Regions from separate parts of the Homo sapiens genome. Here regions 1 and 3 are each linked to region 2. The links come from fine-mapping of genetic effects on gene expression. A gene starts in region 2. Each other region holds a variant in brackets. All regions are shown on one strand. Distances are from middle to middle.

Region 1 (8,182 bases), 130 kb after region 2:
CTATATTTTATTTGACTTTGACAAATCCTGTAATTATGTCATAATATGATGAACGTTTTGAGAAAAGTCTATTCTAAGTATAATGAGAACAAAGAAAAAAAAGATTGGTCCTGGCTATAGAGGTTAGAATATTTCACAAGAAGAAATTATGTTAGAGAATATTCTTGAACGATCAATTGGACTTTGCCAGACTGTGGTGGGCATAGGGGACCCAGAAGGAACATTCATTCTAGTTATGAGAAAGGGCCCAGAGACATGGCGAATCTGGGGGACAAATTCCACATTTTCCATATACTTGATCATTAAGCACATGACCAAGTGTGTCAGTGCATGAGGATGGACAAGATAGATTGGAGCCTTCACTGTTTTTTTCTTCTCATTTACCAAAAATTTCATCATTTTAGAATTGTCCCAGTTTTCTAATTTTAAGTCAGGGCTTCTTTGTCATGCTTAAAGTCTTACCCTCTGTGCCCTCTGCTCTGTGTTCTATATGGTAGCCTGAAATTTGGCCCTGTTATATATATTTATTTATGCCAGACTCCTGAAGGTGTTCAAGCATACCATTTATCAAATATTTCCATGTAATGTGGCAGCTAATAACAGCTTCGTTTTACAGAGGGAAGAGCTGAAGCAAACACTGATTTGTAGATTGCTTGGTAACAGGAAAGAGACCTGATGTATGCCCTCTGTCTTTCCTTCACAAAAATTTTGTAGCTTTCTTTGTTTCTTCAAGCCTTCTACCTGTAGTTATACTTTAAGGGAGATAATTATAAGCAATTTTGATTGACCTGAGTCGATCACACTAGGACTGTCATAAGGGTTAGATTTTGAGTTGACTGTGGCTTTAAGGAAGAATTAAATATTGTAACACCATTTAAAGTTATAGAAGAAAGCATAAGTTACCACTCAGAATATAGGTTGGTAAGACTAAAATCTTCCTGAGCCCATGAGAATACCTGCTTTTTTTTCCAAGTCTAATTGTTTCATGAAGAATTGCTGAGCATGGTGGCTCATGCTTGTAAACCCAGTACTTTGGGAGGCTGAGGCAGGAGGATTGCTTGAGCCCAGGAGTTTGAAACCAGCCTGCGCAACAAAGTGAGACCCCCATCTCTTCAAATAATTTAAAAATTAGCCAGGGGTGCTGGTACATGCCTGGGGTCCCAGCTACTCAGGAAGCTGAGACAGGAGGATTACCTGAGCCTGGCAGGTCGAGGCTGCATTGAGCTGTGATCATGCCACTGCACTACAGCCTGGGTAACAGAACGAGACCCTCGCTCTTAAACACACACATACACACACACACACACGTATATATATAATTGGGCATACACCTGTAGTCCTAGCTACTCAGGAGGCTGAGGCAGGAGGATCACTTGAGCATAGCAGGACCCTGTCTTTAAAAAAGAAAAAGAAGAATTATTGTTGCCTTTTTCTTTTCATTTCTTTTCTTTTTTTTGTTTTGTTTTGTTTTGTTTTTTTGAGACAGAGTCTCACTCTGTCTGGAGTGCAGTGGTGAAATCTTGGCTCACCACAACCTCCATCTCCCGGGTTCAAGCGATTCTTGTGCCTCAGTCTACTGAGTAGCTGATATTACAGGTATGCGCCACCACGCCTGGCTAATTTTTGTATTTTTAGTAGAGACGGGGTTTCGCCATGTTGCCCAGGCTGGTCTCAAACTCCTGACCTCAAGTGATCCGCCCACCTCAGCCTCCCAAACCTCTGGGATTACAGGCATGAGCCACCATGCAAGTCTGGGAGGTAGTATATCATGTAAACATTGCAGGACAAAAGCATACCCAAGTGGGTCACACTGCTATCTAGGATTTGGCCTTTGGCTTTCAAGATCCAAAAAGTTCAACTATGAATTCTGCCAGAACTGATCAGGGTTTAGAGGATGTAAAGCAACCTCTTTCTATTGTGTCTCTAGCACCATCTACTGGGAAACAAAAGTGCCTTTATTTTTTTTTTTTTATTTTTTTTTTTTTTGAGACGGAGTCTCGCTCTGTCGCCCAGGCTGGAGTGCAGTGGCGGGATCTCGGCTCACTGCAAGCTCCGCCTCCCGGGTTCACGCCATTCTCCTGCCTCAGCCTCCCAAGTAGCTGGGACTACAGGCGCCCGCCACTACGCCCGGCTAATTTTTTGTATTTTTAGTAGAGACGGGTTTTCACCGTTTTAGCCGGGATGGTCTCGATCTCCTGACCTCGTGATCCGCCCGCCTCGGCCTGCCAACGTGCTGGGATTACAGGCATGAGCCACCCCGCCTGGCCAAGTCTCTCACATTTAATCCCAACACAATGCTGTATACAAACCAAGTGACTCAGAATAAGAATGCAAAAGTAAACCAGACAAATGCAAGCCGAAGTAGTCTCGGCCGGGCTCAGTGGCTCCTGCCTATAATCCCAGCACTTTGGGAGGCCGAGATGGGCAGATCACCTGAGACCAGCTTGGCCAAAACGGTGAAAGCCCATCTCTACTAAAAATACAACAATTAGCTGGGTGTGGTGGCAGGCACCTGTAATCCCAGCTACTTGGGAGGCTGAGGCAGAAGAATCGCTTGAACCTGGGAGGCCAAGGTTGTGGTGAGCCGAGATCACGCCACTGCACTCCAGCCTGGGCAACAAGAGCAAAACTCTGTCTTAAAAAAAAATTGGTTGCATGTGCAAATATTCCCTATTTAAAAATTTGGCCAGATCACACCTGTAATCCCAGCACTTTGGGAGGCCAAGGTGGGTGGGTCACTTGAGGTCAGAAGTTTGAGACCAGCCTGGCCAACATGTTGAAACCCCGTCTCTACAAAAAATACAAAAATTGGCTGGGCATGGTGGTGTGCCCCTGTAATCCCATCTGTTTGGGAGGCTGAGGCGGGAGAATCACTTGAACCCAGGAGGCAGAGATTGCAGTGAGCCAAGGTTGAGCCACTGCACTCCAGCTTGGGCGACAGAGTGAGACTCCGTCTCAAGAAAAAAAAAAAAAAAAAGAGCAAGGAATCCTTTGTGCACTTCCCAGATTCTCTCGGTTAAACAGTGGACACCCACACACCAGGATGGTATCGCCTGGACCTCAGTGTCTCACTTGAGTGCTTCGTACCTAGGCATCCTGAGGCTGTATGTGAACTCAGAACTCCAGTCTTCAGGCACTAGGAAGACTACATTTCTGAACAGCAGTTCTGAGTTTAAGAAAAGAAATGGGGCCGGGTGCAGTGGTTCACGCCTGTAATCCCAGCCCTTTGGGAGGCCAAGGCAGGTGGTTCACGAGGTCAGGAGTTCGAGACCACTCTGGCCAATATGGTGAAACCCCGTCTCTACTAAAAATACAAAAATTAGCTGGGCATGATGGTGCGTGCCTGTAGTCCCAGCTCCTCGGGAGGCTGAGGCAGGAGAATCACTTGAACCAGGAGGCAGAGGTTGCAGTGAGCCTAGACTGGCCATTGCACTCCAGCCCAGGCAACAGAGGGAGACTACGTCTCAAAAAAAAAAAAAAAAGAAAAAGGAAAAATAAATGAAATGTCCTCTTTTACTCAGATAGATTTGTGTGTTCTCTCAGCATTTAGGAACCCACAAAAGCAGAACCAAATGTTTTAAATGACTGGCAATTGGTTCTTCTTTTACTTTTTAAATTATTTTAATGGTAAGGTACAAGTTCCTGCTTTTTCTTAGCCTCCTAAGATTTCAGCCCTACTTTGCATGCTACTTCTCTCCCCTGATTACAGTGGAAGCCAAGTTCCTAAAATTGCCATTTGACCACATGAAAGGGAAAAATAATTATCACCCTAAAAGAGTATGTTAACCTCCTAACATTTGCATTTACCTTTAAAATATATGAGACAGCTCTGGGACTATAAGAAAACTTTTTAGGCCAGGAGTGGTGGCTCACACCTGTAATCCCAGCACTTTGGGAGGCCAAGGCAGGTGGACCACCTGAGGTCAGGAGTTGGAGACTAGCCTGGCCAACATGGTGAAACCCCATCTCTACTAAAAATACAAAAATTAGCTGGGCGTGGTGGTGTGTGCCTGTAATCCCAGCTACTTGGGAGGCTGAGGTGGGAGAATCACTTGAACCTGGGAGGCAGAGGTGGCAGTGAGCTGAGATTGTGCCATTGCACTCCAGCCTGGGCGACGAGCAAAACTCTGTCTCAAAAAAAAAAAACTTTTTTTTTGGCTGGGTGCAGTGGCTCACGCCTATAATACTAGCACTTTGGGAGGCCGAGGTGGGCAGATCACCTGTCAGGAGTTCACGACCAGCCTGGCCAACATGGTGAAACCCCGTCTCTACTAAAAATACAAAAGCATGGTGGTGTGCACCTGTAATCCCAGCTACTCATGAGGCTGAGACAGAAGAATCACTTGAACCCAGGAGGCGGAGGTTGCACTGAGCTGAGATCGCGCCACTGCGCTCCAGCCTGGGTGACAGAGCAAGACTCCATCTCAAAAAACAAAACAAAACAAAACAAAACAAAAACTCAACCGTAACATTGTTTAAGCCTCTGAAACAGAGCCCTTTTCTTTTCCTCTTCAAGAAAAAATGGCTGGAGTGATTTGGCCTGCTACAGAGGAAACTGGTATTCTCTGTACTTGGTACAAGGTTCTAGCACCTGGCTGTTACTACTCCTGGGTG[G/T]GCCATAATTTTAAGAGGAAGTGGACCTCTGCCATCATCTTATCCTGGGGTTTTCCACCTGCGCTGCTCAGAACCTGTACTTGATTCAGCTAGAACAACTCTGGCTTTTATGTATATGTTACTATATATTTATGAGTATATATTTTCCATTGTCCCTTGGAATCCATGGAGGATTGGTTCCAGGACCCCCTACTGATACTTAAATCATTAGATACTCTAGTTCCTTCTATAAAATGGTGCAGTATTTGCATATAACCTGAGCCCATACTCCCATATACTCTATTTATTTGAGGGTTTTTTTTTTCTCTTCCCCACCCTCTCCATATTTGTTTTTTAAGACAGTCTCATTCTGTTACCTATGCTGGAGTGCAGTGGTGCAATCATGGTTCACTGTAGCCTCGACCTCCTGGGCTCAAGCAATCCTCCTGCCTCAGCCTCCTGAGTAGCTGAGACCACAGGGACACATCACTATGCCTGGCTAATTTTTTACATTTATTTATTTATTTATTTTATTATTTTGGTAGAGATGGGGTCTCTGCATGTTTCCCAGGATCTGGGCTCCCATCTCCTTAACAAATTAAAATGAAGGCGGAGAGAGTAGAACCAGTGAGCCTTTGTGGAGGCTCTATATAAAGATGAGACTTGGGCATTTATCACCTTTGTTTTCTGTCTCTTCCCATCAGGAGAAGTTGCCCCAGTGCAAGGCACTGCATTCGACCTGAGAAAGCCAGTGGAGCTTGGAAAACACCTGCAGGACTTCCATCTCAATGGTTTTGACCACAATTTCTGTCTGAAGGGATCTAAAGAAAAGCATTTTTGTGCAAGGTCAGGTACTTTTCACTTCCTGAGTCTGTAAGGAAGAAATGACACCAAGTCCTATTTTCCTTTGGAGCTTTTCCTCTGGCCATATCAATAGCATTTACTATGCTACAAGTGACCCAATACCACATCCCATATTTTCTCAAAGCTCCCATGGCACAGGTGAGCTCTGTAGAATTTATCCCAGTCCCCCACCTGCCATTACCCCTATTCCCCCTGCTTGGCACCCGCTCTCTCCCTCTCTGCCTGTTCTTTAAGGCCCATTTTCTGTTAGAAGCCTTAACTCTTCCTAGTGAAGTCACCTCGGCTGTCACTGAACTTCCAGAGCCTTTGTGCTTTCTCGATCTGTGACTTATGCCTGCCTACTCCATGGCCAGTTGGAGGCTAGGCATCTCCTGCAGCACTCACCGCCTCCAGCCTTGACCGATAGACACTTGTGTGCACGCTCTCGCCTTCTCACCAAATCCCAGTTCCTCATGCCATTTCATCTTTGTGAAGCCCTACCTCTACCCCAACACCTAATATCATCCTTGGCACTAGCAAATAATGAATAAATGTTTGCAGAATTAACAGTTTTGTGTGTGTGCGTGTGTGTGACGGAGTCTTGCTCTGTCGCCCAGACTGGAATGCAGTGGTGCGATCTAGGTTTACTGCAACCTCCGCCTCCCGGGTTCAAGTGATTCTCCTGCCTCAGCCTCCTGAGTAGCTGGGATAACAGGCACGTGCCACTATGCCCAGCTAATTTTTGTATTTTTAGTAGAGATGGGGTTTCACAATGTTGGTCAGGCTGGTCTTGAACTCCTGACCTTGTAATCCACCCACCTCGGCCTCCCAAAGTGCTGGGATTACAGGTGTAAGCCACTGCACCCGGTCAACAGTTTTTAAATAAAGCAGAAAAAATGACTCAAACCAAATAGTGACAGAAAGAAGATCAAAGACCTTCTCCGGGCTGGGCGTGGTGGCTCATGCCTGTAATCCCAGCACTTTAGGTGGCTGAGGTGGGCAGATCACTTGAGGTCAGGAGTTTGAGACCAGCCTCGCCAACATGGTGAAACGCCGTCTCTACTAAAAATATAAAAATTAGCCAGGCATGGTGGTGGGCACCTATAATCTCAGCTACTCAGGAGGCTGAGGCAGGAGAATCACTTGAACCCAGGGGGTGGAAGTTGTAGTGAGCCGAGATCACGCCACTGCACTCCAGGCTAGGCAACAGAGCAAAACTCCATCTCAAAAAAAAAAAAAGAATCTCAGGCCAGGTGCAGTGGCTCTCATGCCTGTAATCCCAGCACTTTTGGAGGCTGAGGTGGTCAGATCACCTGAGGTCAGTAGTTCAAGACCAGTTGGGCCAACATGATGAAACCCCGACAATACTAAAAGTACAAAAAATTAGCCGGATGTGGTGGCAGGTACCTGTAATCCCAGCTACTCTAGAGGCTGAGGCAGGAGAATTGCTTTAACCAAGGGGGCGGAGGTTGCAGTGAGCCAAGATCGCACCACTGCACTCCTCCCTGGGTGACAGAGCCAGACTCCATCTCAAAACAAACAAACAAACAAAAATTAGCTGGACATGGTAGTGCGCACCTGCAGTCCCAGCTACTGGGGAGCTGAAGTGGGAGAATTGCTTGAGCCCGGGAGGCTGAGGTTGCAGTGAGCCGAGGTCGCGCCACTGCACTCCAGCCTGGGCAATAGAGAAAGACTCTATTTCAAAAAAAAAAAAAAAAAAAAAAAGAATCTCAGCCTCTCCAGGACCTTCCTCTCTCCAACCTGGCTGCTGCCTTCCTCCCTACTCCCCAGCTGGCAGGAGTGAGTCTGTTTTGTGATGCCCCAAAGAAGCTACTGAGGATCCTGAAAGCCACCTGCTCATGCCTTGCCTTTGAGACTGGAAGAATTTTCCATCATGCTCTTCCTACCTTCATCTCCTCCTTATATCTTGTCCCTGCTCTGTGGCTGGGTCTGATTCCTGTCTCAAAGCCGCTTCCCAGCTTCTACTCCTCCCCACCTGCTTTTCTGCCCTGGACTCATGTTGTTTGTATTTCTTACCAGGGTGCATCATGCTGCAAGCGGGCGGGTACTAGAAGTATACACCACCCAGCCCGGGGTCCAGTTTTACACGGGCAACTTCCTGGATGGCACATTAAAGGGCAAGAATGGAGCTGTCTATCCCAAGCACTCCGGTTTCTGCCTGGAGACTCAGAACTGGCCTGATGCAGTCAATCAGGTAATGCCACAGGCTGGCTTTTCAGAGTAGAGTTGTGTCCAAGGTCACACTGTACGACAGAGTTCACTACACTCGAATCAGCTTGTATGATTCAAAAGTTCATGCTTTGTTTGTTTGGTTTGTTTTTTGAGACAGAGTCTCACTCTTGTCGCCTAGGCTGTAGTGCAGTGGCACGATCTCAGCTCACTGCAACCTCCGCCTCCTGGGCACGATCTCAGCTCACTGCAACCTCCGCCTCCTGGGTCCAAGCGATTCTCCTGCCCCAGCCTTCCAAGTAGCTAGGATTACAGGCGCCTACCACCATGCCTGCTTAATTTTTGTATTTTTAGTAGAGACAGGGTTCCACCATGTTGGCCAGGCTGGTCTCAAAACCCCTGACCTCAGGTGATCCACCTGCCTTGGCCTCCCAAAGTGCTAGGATTATAGGCGTGAGCCACTGTGCCCGGCTCAAAAGTTCATGCTTATTCTCTTCTGCAAGTCACAGAAAACCCATAGCCAAGCTACTAACATGGGATTTACATGGTTTTAAGA
Region 2 (8,151 bases):
TATGATGTAGAACCAGATTTTTAGATATGTAACATTTTTTCACTATTATAGCCCCATCACCTGACATATGGTAGAAGCTCAATTATTGTGTTTTAAATGAGGCTAGAGATCACTGAGTTCCAGAGAGGTTAAGTGAAAAAGTTTGTAAGCAGAGCCAATACACTTGCCTTGATTGTGCTACTGGCTCTATGAACAGCTCTTTTCACCGTAACATACTAACATGAAGAAACAGTCTAAAACCAAAAGATGGTAAAACCTACTACTTTTCATTTCTTTCCCCAAACTAGGCCTAAAAATCCTCACTCTACTAGAACAGCTTCGCTGGAGGAGACACAAGACACTACTGCTATGCAAGCCTCAGGCTCTGGCACTTACCTCTGGGGCACACATCCTTTAACTACTTTATTTCCATGAAGTAGTTACTACACAGTCTTCTAAACTTCTCCTGTGAGAGCTAAGTGACCTCATCCCATCTCCCAACCCATATGCATCTAACAGATCACAGTAATATTGCTATCATTAGTAATTTACATTGTGCAAGTATAACAGAATAGTGTATCCTGAATTCAAACTGGATTTTCAATGTGCTGTATAATCCTTTGTTTGGAAATCCTAGGAGCAACAATTTTATCTTGGCATTTTGCCATCTTTCACGTCTATTTACTAAAAGTTGAGAAACAAATTTTCACTTCATCAGCAAACCACTTAATAATCTTTGATTTGCCTGTTTATTCACTAGCAGAAAACAGAAAAACTTTAAAATCTCCAAAATAAATTAGCACTCCATCCCAATTCCTCAAGTGGTTTTCCCAAGTGAAGCCTTAATATTTCCAAGTCAAGCTGCCTTCTTAAAAGAAGATACAGAAACTTAATATGATCTTGAAGGTCATGCCTATTAAATTTAAGAACACTACTCCACAAGAAAAAAGTAACTGTATAATATGTGGCAGGAACCTCTATAATCAAGCCTTATTCAACAATGCAGCTCAGTGAATGTGAAAAACCCTAGGAGTTTTTTGCTCTATTAAAAAAAGGTACCAGAAGACACAAATTTGAAGGGTGTTTTATTTCTCATATCCAAAGTATTAACTCTTCTCTCATTTCTCTTTGTACCTTCAACATAATGATCACTCACAATTATCCATTCATTTCTAAGTTAAGAGCCTTTGTAGAACCACTATGTTTTTCTTAAATACTCACTTTCCTCTTTAAATGTAGTCAATATATTATCAAAGCACTCAAGGTTAATCATAAAAAACCAAGCAATGTAAATCTTCAAAGGCTTACTTTGCACTTTACAAACTTCCAACTAGAGTTGAAAAGAATGCCATCATTGTACCTAACCTGCATTTACTTTAACAGTCTGACCACAAAGGTATTTCTTCTCTGGGCTGAAGGACCACTGAAGTTGTGCAAAACCCTTTTCGGTTACAATGAATTACCAAACATGTGAACGAAGAAGCACAAGACAGTAAACTTCTATCCGGGGAACGTCTATCCTAATAATAGAATTTTATTATGTACAGGTTTCCATAGTTGCCATGATTTCAAAATAGTACCAAAAATTACATGAAAAATATTTAAAAACAAGATAAACAAGGCTTCATTAGATTTCATAGTACAATGATGGTTTTACTGTTAAATGAAAACAATTCACCCTTTCCTAGGAAACATATCAGCAGTAAGATAAACAAAAAAATTAAAATTTATACCTCAATCTGCTTATATCAGTTCCCGCCGGGGTAACTTAAAAGCAGCATTAGCATTACGTTAATCACTTAACTATAGCTTCGGTTAAAAAAGGCATGTGTTTCAACCTTCATATTTTACAGACTAAGAGAACTCAGAGTAGTAAACTGACTTTCTCAGACTCACACAAATTGTATGCTAAGACCAGGTGCGGTGGCTCACGGCTGTAATCCCAGCACTTTGGGAGGCCAACTCAGGTGGATCTCTTGAGCCCAGGAGTTAAGAGACTAGCTTTGGCAATATGGTGAAACCCCTTCTCTACAAAACACAGAAAAAAAAAATTGGCCCGGCGTGGTGATGCAGGCTTCCAGTCCCAGCAACCCGGGAGGCTGAGGTAGGAGGATCGCTTGAGACAGGGAGATCAAGGCTGCAGTGAGCCGTGATCACGAGCTGCTGCACTCCAGAGCTGCTGCACTCCAGCCCCGGGCCATAGAGTGAGATCCTCTCAAAAAAAAAAAAAAATTGTATGCTAAGCCTAGACTCTTGACCACCCCCAAGCCCTACTCAGTGCCATTTCCACCGCTCCACACATTTCGCTTTGGATACATTAATTATATGTTATTTTCTTCCCAACATCCAAAATAATACTATTGATTTAATGCTTTATCTGTTTTCAAAAACAAATTTTTATAATCTGATTTAAGTATCTTTCCAAAATGCCTGAAGACATTTCATGATGCTGCACAAAAACCCAAGCAAGATTTCTAGCAACGAGGTACACTGATCGAATACATCGAAATATCAGTTATAATATTCCTGTTTCCAATTTCCACAACAGAGTTGGCTTTGAACTGAAACTTCCTAAGAAAAAACCATTTCCTTTATTCACACTTCCAAGTTACATTTTGAATATTTCAAATAGCTCGGCACAAAAATCTAAAGTAATAGCTAACACCGTAACAAGACTGAGAGAAAAAGTTCCTTTTTTAAATGTGTTGCAAAGTTTGCTCTCACATCCTGGTAACTGGAAACTGCAACGCTGGGTGACTGACCAGCCTTTTTTTTTATTATTTAAAAATTCAAACGGCTATAAAGGGCTTCTAATGTGCGTCTTATTTTTAAAAGGTAAGGTAAAAACCCTTTTAACCTAATAGTAGGATATATGTGTACAGTTTCGTAATTCTGTTAAAGTTTGCAGAATTAATCACAATTCATGTGTTAAATGTTTAAATAACATCTAAGTCATTAAAACCGCTTAAGTGCACCAAAAAAGGGCAATAACGTTTGCTCCGCTTTGTTTCCTTAAAGTCTCCATCCAACTGAAGCTAACTACTTGCTGTGGACAAAATGATCACATTCCTTCTGCCTCCCCCTAACATTTCTGGTAAGAGAAAGACCTGGCTCTAGGAATGTGTGTTTAATGCAACCCTGAGCTCACTTCATCCTTTCATGGGGCAAATGTGGAATAAATTACCAATGAAAAACTTTAGTAATTTTAAGATTTGTTTTACTTGAAGGTAGGGGTGTACCAACAGCTGCCAACACTTCTGTTGAAGTGTTGTAACCGAAGAGGTAAAAAGTGTACTGAGTAATCCACAAAATTGGGTAGAGCAAAGGATGCACGCCATGCTTATAAAGAGTTTAATTTTAAAATTTTTTAAATTAAACCTTCAAGGGAACTAGCATGTGAACGCCAAGGCATAATCTGTTATTTAATTACGGGTCTCCATAGGACCGAGGCGGAGAGAGCTCCCGGTAGAACCGACGCAACCATCCCGGGATGGTGACCAACGCGCGGCTGCTGCGGGCAGAGGGACTGAAGAGAACCGGTGGTCCCGACGCTGGCCCCGAGCCCGAGGAGTTAAACTAACAAAGAGCTCCCCGAGCCGCGAAACCCCCCAGAGCGGAAGCGACGCCTCCCCGCCGCCGCCGCCGCGCCGCGACCCTCCCCAAGTTCAGGGCCCGGCAGTGGACTCGCTGCGGGGCCTGCGGCCAGGACGGCGCCGGGTTCGCAGTCGGGATGCGGGAAACAGGTAGAGGCCAGAATACGAGCCCCAAAGAGAAGAGTGGGCGCTTCCCCAAACGGGTCGGCGCAGCGGAAAAGGCTAACTGAAGCAAGCGGGAGGCCCCGCACCGAGGCCCTGCTTCCCGGGGAGCAGCCAGGCACAGCGGACAGGGGGGCCGCGCTTTGTTACCGGCTGAGAGAAGCTCCGGCCGCCGCCGCCGCCATCGCCCCCGCCCCGGGGCGTCGCTTCCCGGCGGTTCTCGCCTTCCTCGGCCGAGTAGTCGATCTCCCCCTCCTCGGTCTTGAGACGCTTGGCCTGGCTCTCGTACTCCCGGTCCTCCTCGTACGTCTCCCTGGGGGAGGAAGAGGAGGAGGACATGGCGGCGGCCGGAGGGACCGGCTGGCAGGCGGGTGGGGGTGGCGGTGGGGCGCGCGCCTCGGATGCCGCCGGCCAGTCCTCGCCGCCGGCAGCGCCTCTTCTGCGAGGGTCTCCGCGGCCCGGCCGTCCGCGGGGACTGCGCGGCCAGGAGACTGGCGGCTGAGAAGCGCGGACGGACTGAGGGGGGCGCCCCGGGAGGAAGCTCTGGAGCGGCCGCTCCTCTCAATTACCGAGCCAACATTCAGCCTCTCCCTCCTCCTCCTCCGTCTCCGCTCCCTGCCCGGAGGAGCGAATCTAAGGATGGGGACGCAACCGTGGCTTCCGGTCTTCCCTCCTCCCCTAAGCCGCTCCCAGCCGCGCAGGCCGAGCCTCCGCCCCCGCCTTCGCGGCCGTCGCGCAGGATCGAATCCAGCCGCAGCCTGCGGGAAGCGCCCCCCCCGGCCCGGGTTCTGCTCCCTATTGGCAGGGGCGGGAAAGTCGACCGGGCTTCCCATTGGCTGTGAGGGCCGTTCGTCAAAAGCCGCCCGCTGCTCGACCTCACTTCTCTCCCCGCGCCTTCTGAACTCGCCGCGGTCCTGGGAGGCCCGGCGCGCAAGGCGCGCCGCCTGGGAGTAGTTGCGACCCGCAACCGTTGGCGCTATGCGGCTCCTACCCGAGGCCAGGCGTGGAGTGAACACGGACGAGCGACGAGAAGTGCGGAGAGGCTAGGGCTGCGGGTGTTAACCGCCCTGCCGCTAATTTAAATGCTTTTTATCACCTCTTAAAAAGAGAATGAGGAAAAAAACCTCTAAAATCCCTGCAGTCATACCCCCCGAAAAGCCCTAAAATTGCAGGCGATGAAGGGAGAAAACGGCTTGGAGCCATGAGAATGGTCTTTCCACTGTTTTGTGTGCAAAATCTGGTAGAAGTGGGCGGACCCTCCCGCCCCTAGCTGGGTGTTGGAGAACAGCTGTCAGCATTGACTGAAGGCTGCGAGGCGCGCGTCGGCAGGAGGCGCTGCACGCGGGCGCTCGTCGGTCTGATCGGTTATAACTCGTTTGTAACCTGGGCCCTTTACTGACTTGCCTGTCCCTGTAAGTCCCTGCTCCAGTTAAATATGTTTTAATCCTTCCATATAAAATCTCATCCTCCATCCCAATTCTTTCTCTTCTGGACAATGTATTTACTTCACTTGATCATTTATTGTCGAAAGATACAAAAGCCTTTCAAAGTTCTGTGATCACAGCTTGCTTCCTCTGTGGTGTCCTGAGGGCTTTTCCAAGATTTTAGTTGCTGCTCTCTTTTTGCAACAGGGCCCCTTATAACTCCCTCTTAAGATGTTCTGTTTTAAAAACTCTGTGAGCGCCTGAAGACAGGAACTGTGTGCAATTTTCATTTTCGCAAGCCCAGTTCCTGTGCGATCTCCAGCACAATTTAGGTGCTCAACAATGCTGAATGAGTAGTCCTTGGGAAATAAAGGTCCAGTGTATCTTTCAGGACAGAAACTGGCAAATCAAGGCAACCTAACTGCCCTCTGTCAGGTGCCTCTTGGAGGACTGCCTGAGATCAAGAGCCTCTTGTGTTTCTGTTGTCCTTGTCCCTCGGATGCTTTCCTAGATGTGGCTCTTCCTTTCCTAAGAGTGTAGATTGCTTCCTCCTCCAGCCTAGTTCTCTCCAAAGTTATTTCCTCCTCCAAAAAAGCTATTTTTATTTATTGCTGAGAGTGCTTTAACATAACACTTTTGTACTTTGTAAATTACACCGGCTGTCATTTTGGAATCTAATTGCAAGATTTTCCACACTATGCAGCTATAATCAAATGTGTGTGCGGCTGCAGGTATACATTGACAAAACAGAACTAAAAAAATTATAAATTTATTTTTTAAATTAAAATGGAAGTCGACAGAAGAAATAGCAAAAGAGTGGCAGAGCTGGCTGCGGATGAGAAAATGTCATTGGCAAAAAGCTCTGCAATGGTTTGGGAAAGTAAAATAGCAACAAGGGAAACAATGATACAATTCTGCTTAAAATATGTCCTATGGATTCATATGTCCCCTAACATATTCAGAATGCAGACATTACCTGGCCTTCAGAAAGCTGAAGATACCAAGGGTCAAAAAAAAGGTCTAACAAACCTACTTCACGTGTTATCTTTAGCATCCATTGTCCTTTTTATAGCAGTCTCAGTATCAAAGATCAGGAAAGGATGAGTGAATTAATAAACTTGATACAAAGGAAACTTCTTTGATGAGGTGAGATGGGCCATTCTCAAGATATTTTTAGTTTGCTCAAATTAAAAGAGAAGAGCTGAGAGCTTAAAACAATTATTTTTTAGGAGAAAGAAAACAATAGAATATTATGTGAAATAATTGAGTGTGATGAGAAGCACTAAATATCTTTTTGTTAAGTATGAGCAACTACCTGTTAATTTTGTTTTATGTACATTTTCATATGCTAGGTGAATTTAGTTTGGTAAATTCTATTCACTCACAACTGGATTTACTAGGCCTTATACAAACTTTCCAAATATTTCTTGTGAAGATGCAAATATTTTAAATTCTCAAAGCCCTGCATTCAACCTATGGATTATACCACATTACAATGCAACTGTCACACCAATGGGTAAGGAAATCCAGCCTTGCCAAACCTAGGGCTGCTGTGCTCAGCGTTCACAAACAGCAGGTGGAATTCAATATGTACCAGTATTAAACTTTGTTCTTTTTGTAAGTAGCCCAGTTGAGTAAAAAAAAAAATATTGAGGGAGTAAAACTTAGAAAGCATTTTTAAAGGACACCAATCAGTTCGTTAACCATGGGTGAAATGCGAGCTTGTTGCAGATGAGTTGTTCAGACAGTGACAGTAGGTCCTTTGATAAGGAAAATACTAGCTAGCTCATCACCAGGGCATGAGGAGCTAAAGAGAGAGGACATAAATTATACTCTACATTATTTCACTTAGGTGAGACAAAGAAATTACACACTGCCCAGTAGCCAGAAATACCTAAGAAAAGCAGAAACAGCTCCTAAATGCCATGACTGTCTGGAACCTCTCATGCATTACGGCCTCAGACCTTTGACTATTTTCTGAACATTTGATTGAATTCGCTGCTGTCAAGTAGGCAGCAGCCAAGAGCTCCCATTGCCACAGCTCAAAGGGGACTCCAGCTATACTGGAGTAGGAGACAGGCTTAGGGCAGGCCTAGGGAAATTGAGAGTCAAGGGCCTTTATAATCAATCCAGCCTCAAATTGCCCTTTAGTTTTAAATCTCGTTACTGATCTATAAAATTTATAAGACATTGTGCTAGGTGATGAGAGGACTACGTGAGCTGGTCCCTGCCCTCTCAAAGCTTGCAATCAAGTTGTGGAAACAAGGCTCATACCCAAGAGATAGGCTACAAGCATCCATATGTAATAATACATATACAATAATTAATAGCCACATTTAATGTGCCAGTCACTGTGCTAACCACTGAAAGGGTTTTGTCAATAAATTCTGACAGAAGCCTTCTACCAGAGGCATTATTATTACTCTTCCCAGTATACAATTAAAGAAACAGTCTAGGGGAGATTAAGAAACCTGCCTTAGGCTGGGCACAGAGGGAGGCAGAGGCACACAGATCACTTGAGCCCAGGAGTTTGAGACCAGCCTAGGCAACGTGGCAAGACCCTGTTTCCACAAAAATTGTAAAAATTAGCCTGGAATGGTGGTGCGTGCCTGTAATCCCAGCCACTCAGGAGGATGAGGTGGGAGGATTGCCTGAGCCCAGGGAGGTCCAGGCTACAGTGAGCCGTGACTGCACCACTACACTCTAGCCTGGGTGTTGGAGTGAAACCCTGTTTCAAAAAAAAGAAAAGAAAAAAAAGGAAACCTGCCCTAGAGCTGCAGTTAATAAATTGAAAAGCCAGGACTGGAACCCAAGCAATCGGGTTCCAGAGCCAGTACTCGTCATCAGAAGACTGATGATTTAATTATTGTGTTATTTATTACCATGGACATACAGATCTAATTTATAGTCACTTATTATATAATGATGCTAATTCATTCACTGATTTCTCCTTTTTATTTATTTCTTTATTTGAGACAGGATCTCACTCTGCT
Region 3 (8,182 bases), 99 kb after region 2:
TTTTCACCCTGGCTACAGACACTCGGTAAATAATTTTTCAGGTGATGGGAAAACACATCATCATGAGAATGTAGCAACTTTTATTTTGCAGTAACTGTTAAAATTGTGGCCACAGTGCTCAGTAAAAGGGGACCTTCCCCCTGTAGGTGTTTGGGGAGGAGTGACGTCCTGTCCTCCATTTTGTTAGTAACCCACTTATGGATGGGGCATTATCACCTAGAAAGAAAAGAGATACCATGGTATGCAGTTACAGGGAGCCAGAGCAAGAGCAAGACAAAGAAATTCCCTTACGTCTTCAATGCAGAGCCGGCATTTAGACCTCTACCCCAGGCAGGACCCACAAATCTTTGGCAGCCATGAGCACCTGTTTTGCTCCTGCCTTCTTCCTGTTGGCAATTTTGGGTTTTGGGGTTTTTTTTTTTTAGACAGAGTCTCACTCCATCACCAGGCTGGAAGTACAGTGGTGCAGTCTCGGCCCACTGCAGCCTCCGCCTTCCGGGTTCAAATGATCCTCTTGCTTCAGCCTCCCAATTAGCTGGGACTACAGGTGCGCACCACCACGGCCAGCTAATTTTTGTATTTTTAGTAGAGATGGGGTTTCACCATATTGCCCAGGCTGGTCTCAAACTCCTGACCTCAAGTGATCTGCTCACCTCAGCCTTTCAAAGTGCTGGGATTATATATATATTTTAAATAAATGAATAGAATTCATCACCTAACTTCTAAAGCTACCTCTGTAGATGAAATTCCGGCACTTAGGAGTCAGCAGTGGTGTATTGAGTGCATAGCCCTTGCTCACAGGTGCTTCTTTCCTGTCCCATGGCAGGTGGCACCAACAGAAGGTTTCTGCAAGGCTGAGAGCTCCTTTTACCCATGGACCAGGAGCAAAGTTTGCAGGTACACTGTCAGGCTGTGTTTGGATGTTAGCAGTTAATTTAGCTCTGCGTCTTCAGAGCAATTATTCTTAGCTACTTAAAAAAAAAAAAAGGAAAAAAATGACACCCATAAAGCATTTGCTGCTCCATAGGATGGGAGCACACTCTGTTGTTGGGCATATGAGTCCCTCTGGCATGTGTTTTCTATGTTTATTGTTGTCAGGGCTGTCCCTGTAATTTCCCAGAAGTAGAACTCCCTGAAGCTGTTTCCCAGAAAGGACAGGGGTGTAGATAATGGATGTCCAGAGACAGAGAACACTGCAGTGCCAGATCCCTGTGCTGCTTTGTCAGACATTTGTTTATATATTGTTTGTTTTTGAGATGGGGTCTCACTATGTTGCCCAGGCTGATCTTGAACTCCTGAGCTCTCAAGTGATCCTCCCACCTCGGCCTCCTAAAGTGCTGGGATTACAGGCATGAGCCACTGTGTCCAGCTGTTATTATTATTATTATTTTGAGACAGAGTTTTGCTCTTGTTGCCTAGGCTGGCGTGCAATGGCACATCCTCGGCTCACTGCAACCTCCGCCTCCTGGGTTCAAGCAATTCTCCTGCCTCAGCCTCCCGAGTAGCTGGGATTACAAACGCCCACCACCATGCCCAGCTAATTTTTGTATTTTTAGTAGAGACGGGGTTTCACCATGTTGGCCAGGCTGGTTTCGAACTCCTAACTTTAGGTGATCTGCCCACCTCGGCCTCTCAAAGTGCTGGGGTTACAGGCATGAGCCACCGTACCTGGCCCCAGCTGTTATTATTTTTAATTGATACCTAATACTTGATATCTAATACATATTTTATTGATACCTAATACATATTTACAGGGTACACTGGGATATTTTGATACATGTTTACAATGTATAAGGATCAAATCAGGGTAATTAGCATATCCATCACCTCAAACATTTATCATTTTTTTGTGTTGGGACATTCAAAATCTGCTGTTCTAGCTATTTGAAAATATACAATAAGTTGTTGTTAATTATAGTCACCCTATAGTGCTTTAGAGCACTAGCACTTATTCCCCCTATCTAGCTGTACTTTTATTAACATTAAACAACCTTTAGGCTGTGTGCGGTGGCTCATGCCTGTAAACCCAGCACTTTGGGAGGCCGAGGTGGACTGATCACCTGAGGTCAGGAGTTCAAGACCAGCCTGGACAACATAGCAAGAACCATCTTAAAAAAGAAAAGAGAAGAATATTTAAAATTTTCTTCACTGATCATTCAGGAGCATATTGTTTAATTTCTGTGTATTTGTACAATTTCAAAAGTTCACCTCGCTGTTGAGTTCTAGTTTTATTCCACTGTGGTCAGGAAAGATACTCGATATAATTTCAATTATTTTAAATTTGTTGAGACTTGTTTTGTGGGCTAACATATGGTCTATTCTGGAAAATGTTTCTTGTGCTGATGAAATAATGTGTTTTCTGAATCTGTTGGATGAAATGTTCTGTAAATGTCTCTTTGTTAGTCTAAAATGCAGGGTTTTTTGTTTTTTTGAGAGAGTCTCACTCTGTTGCCCAGGCTGGGAGTGCAGTAGCATGATCTTGACTCACTGCAACCTCCACTTCCCAGGTTCAAGCAATTCTCGTGCCTCAGCCTGCCAAGTAGCTGGGATTACAGGTGCCCGCCACCACACCCAGCTAATTTTTGTATTTTTAGTAGAGACAGGGTTTTACCATGTTGACCAGGCTGGTTTTAAACTCCTGGCCTCAAGTGATCCGCCCACCTCAGCCTCCCAACGTACTAGGATAACAGATGTGAACCACCGCGCTCAGCCTAAAGTGCAGTTTAAATCTAGTGTTTTGTTGTTGATTTTCTGTCTAGATGATCTGTTCAGTGCAGAGAATGGGGTGTTGAATTCCCCAGCTATTGTATTGGTGTCTATGTCTCCCTTTAGATCTAATAATATTTGCTTTATATTATGTATCTGGGCGCTCCAGTGTTGGGTGCATATATATTTAGAATTGTTACCTCCTCTTACTGAATTGATCCCTTTATCATTATATAATAACCTTTTTCTTTTTTTTAATCGTTTTTTACTTGACGTCTGTTTCATCTGATACAAGTACAGCTACCCTGCTTGCTTTTGGTTTCTGTTTGCATGGAATATCTTTTTCCACCCTTTCAGTCTATGTGTGTCGTTACAGATGAAGTGAGTTTCTTGTAGGCAACCGTAGTTGGGCCATGTTTTTTAATCCATTCAGCCAGTCTATATATTTTAAGGGGGGAAGTTTAATAAGTTTACATTCAAGATTATTATTGATAGGTGAGGACTTCTGTCATTTTGTTAATTATTTTCTGTTTTTTTAAATATATCCTTTGTTCCTTTCTTCCCCTCTTATTGTTCATCCTTGTGATTGGTGGTTTTCTGTAGTGGTAAAATTTGATTCTTTTCTCTTTCTCCTTTGTGTATGTGCTCTACCAGTGAGTTTTCTACTTTTTTGTGTTTTCTTGATAGTAATTATCATTTCACTTCCAGATGTGGGACTCCCTTGAGCATTTCTTATAAGGCTGGTCTAGTGGTGATGAATTCTGTCAGTTTTTATTTGTCTGAGACATGTCAGGCATTTAGCTTCAGGACCTGATTCTAGTTCCCTGCCCTGTGGCAACAAGTAGAAACAGATCCCTGGTACCCTGCTTAAGTATTACACCAGCTAGATGTGAGCAGATGAGAAAATCAAATCCTTCTATTTTGCCAGGGATTAATTCATTCTCAGGATTGTAAATATTACATTTCACCTTTCACCTCACAGAACTGTAGAATTAGGAGGTGAGCTGGGCAGCCTGCCCAGCAAGACATTATGATGTATACAATACAGTGCACTACTAAGGATGTGTCTTTAAAGGCATTTACAGCACACAGTTTTTTTTTTCCTTATAATTTTGCTGCTCTTTATTTGTAGTAGTAGATAAGGAATTAAGAAAGCAAAAATGAGTGCTTTGACTAGGTCTTTTGCCTTTGAAAGTAGCATTAGTAAAATCCCCTCTTCTTTTTTATTCTTATAAAATTTACCCAATTCACTCTGTCCCCCAGCCCATCTGTGTTCACTTGCTGTTCTTGCTGCTCTCAGTTTTTAAAAGCTTATTCTAAAATTACAT[C/G]AAAGCAACCCCATTTTGACAAAATTAGAATTCTGGTAGGAAACGCTTGCCATGAGGCTGTGGAGAGAGGCCCAGCAAGACTTTTGTATTTTATTTCAACCTCTGTCGGTTAAACCTACAATTCGGCAGATGATATAATTACCTCCCTGGGGCAGGTCTCTATCTCTGCCTTGGAGAAATAGCAAAGTCCAAAGTAGTCTCCTCATTCAAAGATGTTGCAAACGAAGGCTGTTTTGATCTTTATGTATTAGCATTTGGGTGTTAATCTTTCTGGAGCTCCTGACAGAAAATTCCTTTAAATTTATTATATAATTCTAAAATATTGGACATATTTGTTTCAAGCATCTGTCAGTATCCTTACTCTTTCCATTTCACTCCCCACTGCCTTAATTAGTCATCAGGTCCTACTGATTTTTAACTCCTAAGCATTTCTCAAATCTGTCTCCTCAGTATGTATTGTTGGTTATATAACTCCATCTCCATTTTCACTGTGCTGCTTTAGACTATCTTTTCTTGTCTAGATTAGTGCCTGGCTTATATTATGGGCTTCATAAAGTGGGATCAATGAATGAATGATTCATAATCTGGACAACTGCACTCTAACACCTAACTGGAAAAAAAAAAATCTTAAGATCTATCTTCCATGTAAAAGCATCTATCTAAAATGCAAATCTTACTTTGATAATCTCCAGGTTAATAAACCTCTTAGACGGCTCTCAGGCCTCCCCAAAACCATCTCTCATTTCACTGATCAAAAAAATAAAAATTTAAAAATTTTAAAACTTAAAAAAAAAATTGAACATTTCACTGGTCAAAAAACAAAAACAAAAATGATCTCCGAGCATGCCTCCCTCACACCCCACCCTGCTGTGCATCCCTTTCCCACCCCCAGCCTACAGAGACCACCCAATAACCTCTTCTTTGCTACATGACCCTTACCCTCCTTCTTCAAGAGTCATACTTTCTCCTTAGAAACTTTTCCCCCCACTTTCTGGAAACTGTAGATTCTTTCTTGCTTATGGTTTTTGTAATGACATCAGCCATTTAGAATTCATGATGTGGCCAGTCTCTGCTATCTGCCTCTCCACAGAGCTTGCTCAGATAATCCATCAGGATTTAGTCACAGATCCAAAGTAGGGAGCTAGAAGGGAGCTTCAGGCTTGGTCTCTTCGGGTTGAAGCTAGAAAACTAATCTATACTGAACACAAAAATGAAGCTGAGTAATAGCCAACCTATACATCCTAGGAATTAACTATTGCTTATTTTGCCCCCAGCCAGTCTCTCCACACTCCTCTCTCCTTTACATTTGTTTTAAACACTATATATATATATACACTTTATTTATATATATATACTTTTTATATATATATATATATAATATGTGTAATTTTTTTTTTAATTAGCTGGGCATGGTGGGGTGTGCCTGTGATCCTAGCTACTCAGGAGGCTGGGAGGCTGAGGTGGGATGATATGTGGGATTTTATATATATATATATATATATATATATATATATATATATTTTTTTTTTTTTTTTTTTTTTTTTTTTTTTTGAGACAGAGTTTTGCTCTTGTTGCCCAGGCTGGATTGCAATGGTGCGATCTCAGCTCACCGCAACCTCTGCCTCCCAGGTTCAAGCGATTCTCCTGCCTCAGCCTCCCAAGTAGGTGGGATTACAGGTATGCACCACCATGCCTGGCTAATTTTGTATTTTTAGTAGAGACAGGTTTCTTCATGTTGGTCAGGCTGGTCTCTAATTCCCGACCTCAGGTGATCCACCCACCTTGGCCTCTCAAAATGCTGGGATTACAAGCGTGAGCCACCGCACCCAGCCTTAAACACGGTATATTAGCCCAACACTGTGTGAGAACTGGGATTCAGAAAACCAAGATATAGGTCTCCGTTCTGCCATCCACTAGCTATGCTATGAGTCAGCCATGAAAATTCTCTGGGCCTCATTGACTGAATCTGTAAAATCTGACTTGATGAGGATTATATTCATTGAACTCTGAGGTCCTGTCCATTTCTTACACCCTGATTCAAAGACCGCACAGAATCTCTAACCCAGATATTCTTAACTAGGGTTCTTGTATGTCTGGGAAGATGATGAAAGAACTTCAAGGGGATCATGAGCTCTTTAAATTCTATATAAAATCCAAGGCTGGGCGTGGTGGCTCACGCTTGTAATCCCAGCACTTTGGGAGGCTGAGGTGGGCAGATTGCCTGAGATCAGGAGTTCGAGACCAGCCTGGGCAACATGTTGAAACCCCCTCTCTGTGAAAATACAAAAACAATCAGCTGGGTGTGGTGGCATGTGCCTATAGTCCCGGCTACTCAGGAGGCTGAGGCACAAGAATTGCTTTGAACCCAGGAGGCAGAGGTTGCAGTAAGCCAAGATCGTGCCACTGTGCTCCAACCTGGGAGACAGGGAGAAACGCTGTCTCAAAAAATAAATGAATAAATAAATAAATAAATAAAATAAAATAAAATAAAATAAATTCTATGTAAAATCCTTTGTGAACTTGCTGCATCACCTTGGCCCACAAAGGGGGTTTTCTTATCTTTTTTCCTCTTTCAAAGTAATGATAGTCTATGGTTGCCCTACTATGTATTCTCTTTTTATTATTTTATTATTTTTTTTTTTAGAGACAGGGTCTCACTCTGTTATCCAGGCTGGAGTGCAGTGGTGCAATTATAGCTCACTGCAGCCTTGGCCTCCTGGGCTCACGCGGTCATCCCACCTCAGCCTCCTGCATAGCTAGGATCACAGGCATGCCCCCATCATGCTCAGCTAATTTAAAAAATATTTTTTTTGAGGCTGGGCACAGTGGTTCATGCCTTTAATCCCAGAACTTTGAGAGGCTAAGGCGGGAGGATTGATTGGGTCCAGGAGTTCAAGAACCTGAGAAATACAGAGAGACCCCATTTTTACTACAAAAAAATAGAATCAAAAAATTAGCCAGGCCCAGTGGCATTCACCTGTAGTCCCAGCTACTTATGAGGCTGAGGCAGAGGATTGCTTGAACCCAGGGGTTCAAGGCAAATTGAGCTATGATTGGGCACTGCACTTAGCTTTGGTGACACGGCAAGACTCTGTCTCCATTAAAAAAAAAAAAAGTAAGGCTACAGATAAGAAAGTACTTGGACAACAGTAAAAAAGTTAAACTCATGACATTGGACCCTATGAAATGTGTTTACCCTAGAGCTGTTTATTGTATGATAGGTCCCTGCTAGATAGTATTCAAGGTTTAATGCAAAAACTCCAAGGACCTCTCTTGGTAGCAGTGGTATTCTTTAAGACGGCACATTACTGAATCCTTCCTGTAAAATGGTCACAAGATCATTTTTATGAGCCTCTAGAATAACTCCTGAAGCTACTCATGCTCCCTACTGGAAAACACATTACTGTTACAAGATTGGCAAACATGAACCAGCATGGTAGAAATCTGGCAGGAAGAAAGCTCAAAATTTAGCACTTGGCCAGGCGATGTGTAATTCCTGTGAAAATTGCAGGCTAACAGTCAGTGAATTTGTCAGAAGGGGAATTATTTGCTAGAGCTCTGACCACCACCCTTGGAGAGTTGATGGTTCACATCTACCCTTCCTCCAGCCCAGGTCTGGACAAGGGCTGCCTCTAGTTCATTCCTGGTGCATAGCCATCCTTAGTGGTCACTACATTCTGAAGGGGCTTAGTGGGACTGTGGGCCTTGGGCAACGGACCTGATGTTAACTCAAGTAAGTTCCCAGAGCAGATTTGTATTCAGTTCAGCTAACATTTATAGAGCACCTACTGATTGCTACATGCTGCCTGAGAGATAAAGAGGATGGAACACTGTCTCTGCCCTTGAGAAGCTCAGAGGGATGGGGAGAACCTAATGTGGTCAGAGCAGTTGTAGAGATAATGCCTGTGGGACTGAAGGAGTGTAGAAGCCAGGGTAGAAAGAGGATTCTCAAGATTGTCCTGAGCTGTGAGAAGCCTCTCAGTGTCTGTGAGGATCTAGCCACAAGGAGAGTGAGAGTACCAAAGCACAGAATGCAGGAGTGGTGATGACTGTTAAGCCAATAAGCCAAAGAGACAGTTGGGCAGAGCAAGGGCTAGGGTGCAAAATTTAAGGCAGCATCCACTCCCAGGGTCGTGCATGTGCAGGGT

Alleles and levels. Positions count from the first base shown, and alleles are read on the strand shown. Sizes are in standard deviations (SD) of each study's normalised expression. Not every link is listed here.
With allele G in place of T in region 1, the expression in sigmoid colon of the gene that starts at base 4,375 in region 2 is lower (moderate effect, 0.71 SD a copy in GTEx).

Evidence for each region. PIP is the estimated chance that this variant, and not a neighbour inherited with it, causes the effect.
Region 1: its variant is fine-mapped to the expression of HNRNPLL in sigmoid colon (GTEx, PIP above 0.99).
Region 3: its variant is fine-mapped to the expression of HNRNPLL in whole blood (TOPMed, PIP 0.98).

Annotation. Positions count from the first base shown.
Region 1 is chr2:38,724,259-38,732,440 of GRCh38, forward strand. It overlaps GALM (galactose mutarotase), which reads left to right. Exons shown (of 7, transcript NM_138801.3): 5 at 5,298-5,439; 6 at 7,477-7,651. All of the region lies in intron 1 of LOC124905993 (a long non-coding RNA gene), which reads right to left. Among named protein-coding and RNA genes, the nearest start is that of SRSF7, 23 kb to the right of the region's middle. The variant G/T (reference allele first, on the strand shown) is at 4,615.
Region 2 is chr2:38,598,554-38,606,704 of GRCh38, forward strand. It overlaps HNRNPLL (heterogeneous nuclear ribonucleoprotein L like), which reads right to left and starts at 4,375. Exons shown (of 13, transcript NM_138394.4): 1 at 3,885-4,375. The coding sequence starts at 4,073. RefSeq lists silencers at 4,095-4,194, 4,215-4,264, 4,485-4,554.
Region 3 is chr2:38,697,540-38,705,721 of GRCh38, forward strand. The region is part of intron 4 of GALM (galactose mutarotase); the gene reads left to right. All of the region lies in intron 1 of LOC124905993 (a long non-coding RNA gene), which reads right to left. Among named protein-coding and RNA genes, the nearest start is that of GALM, 36 kb to the left of the region's middle. The variant C/G (reference allele first, on the strand shown) is at 4,035.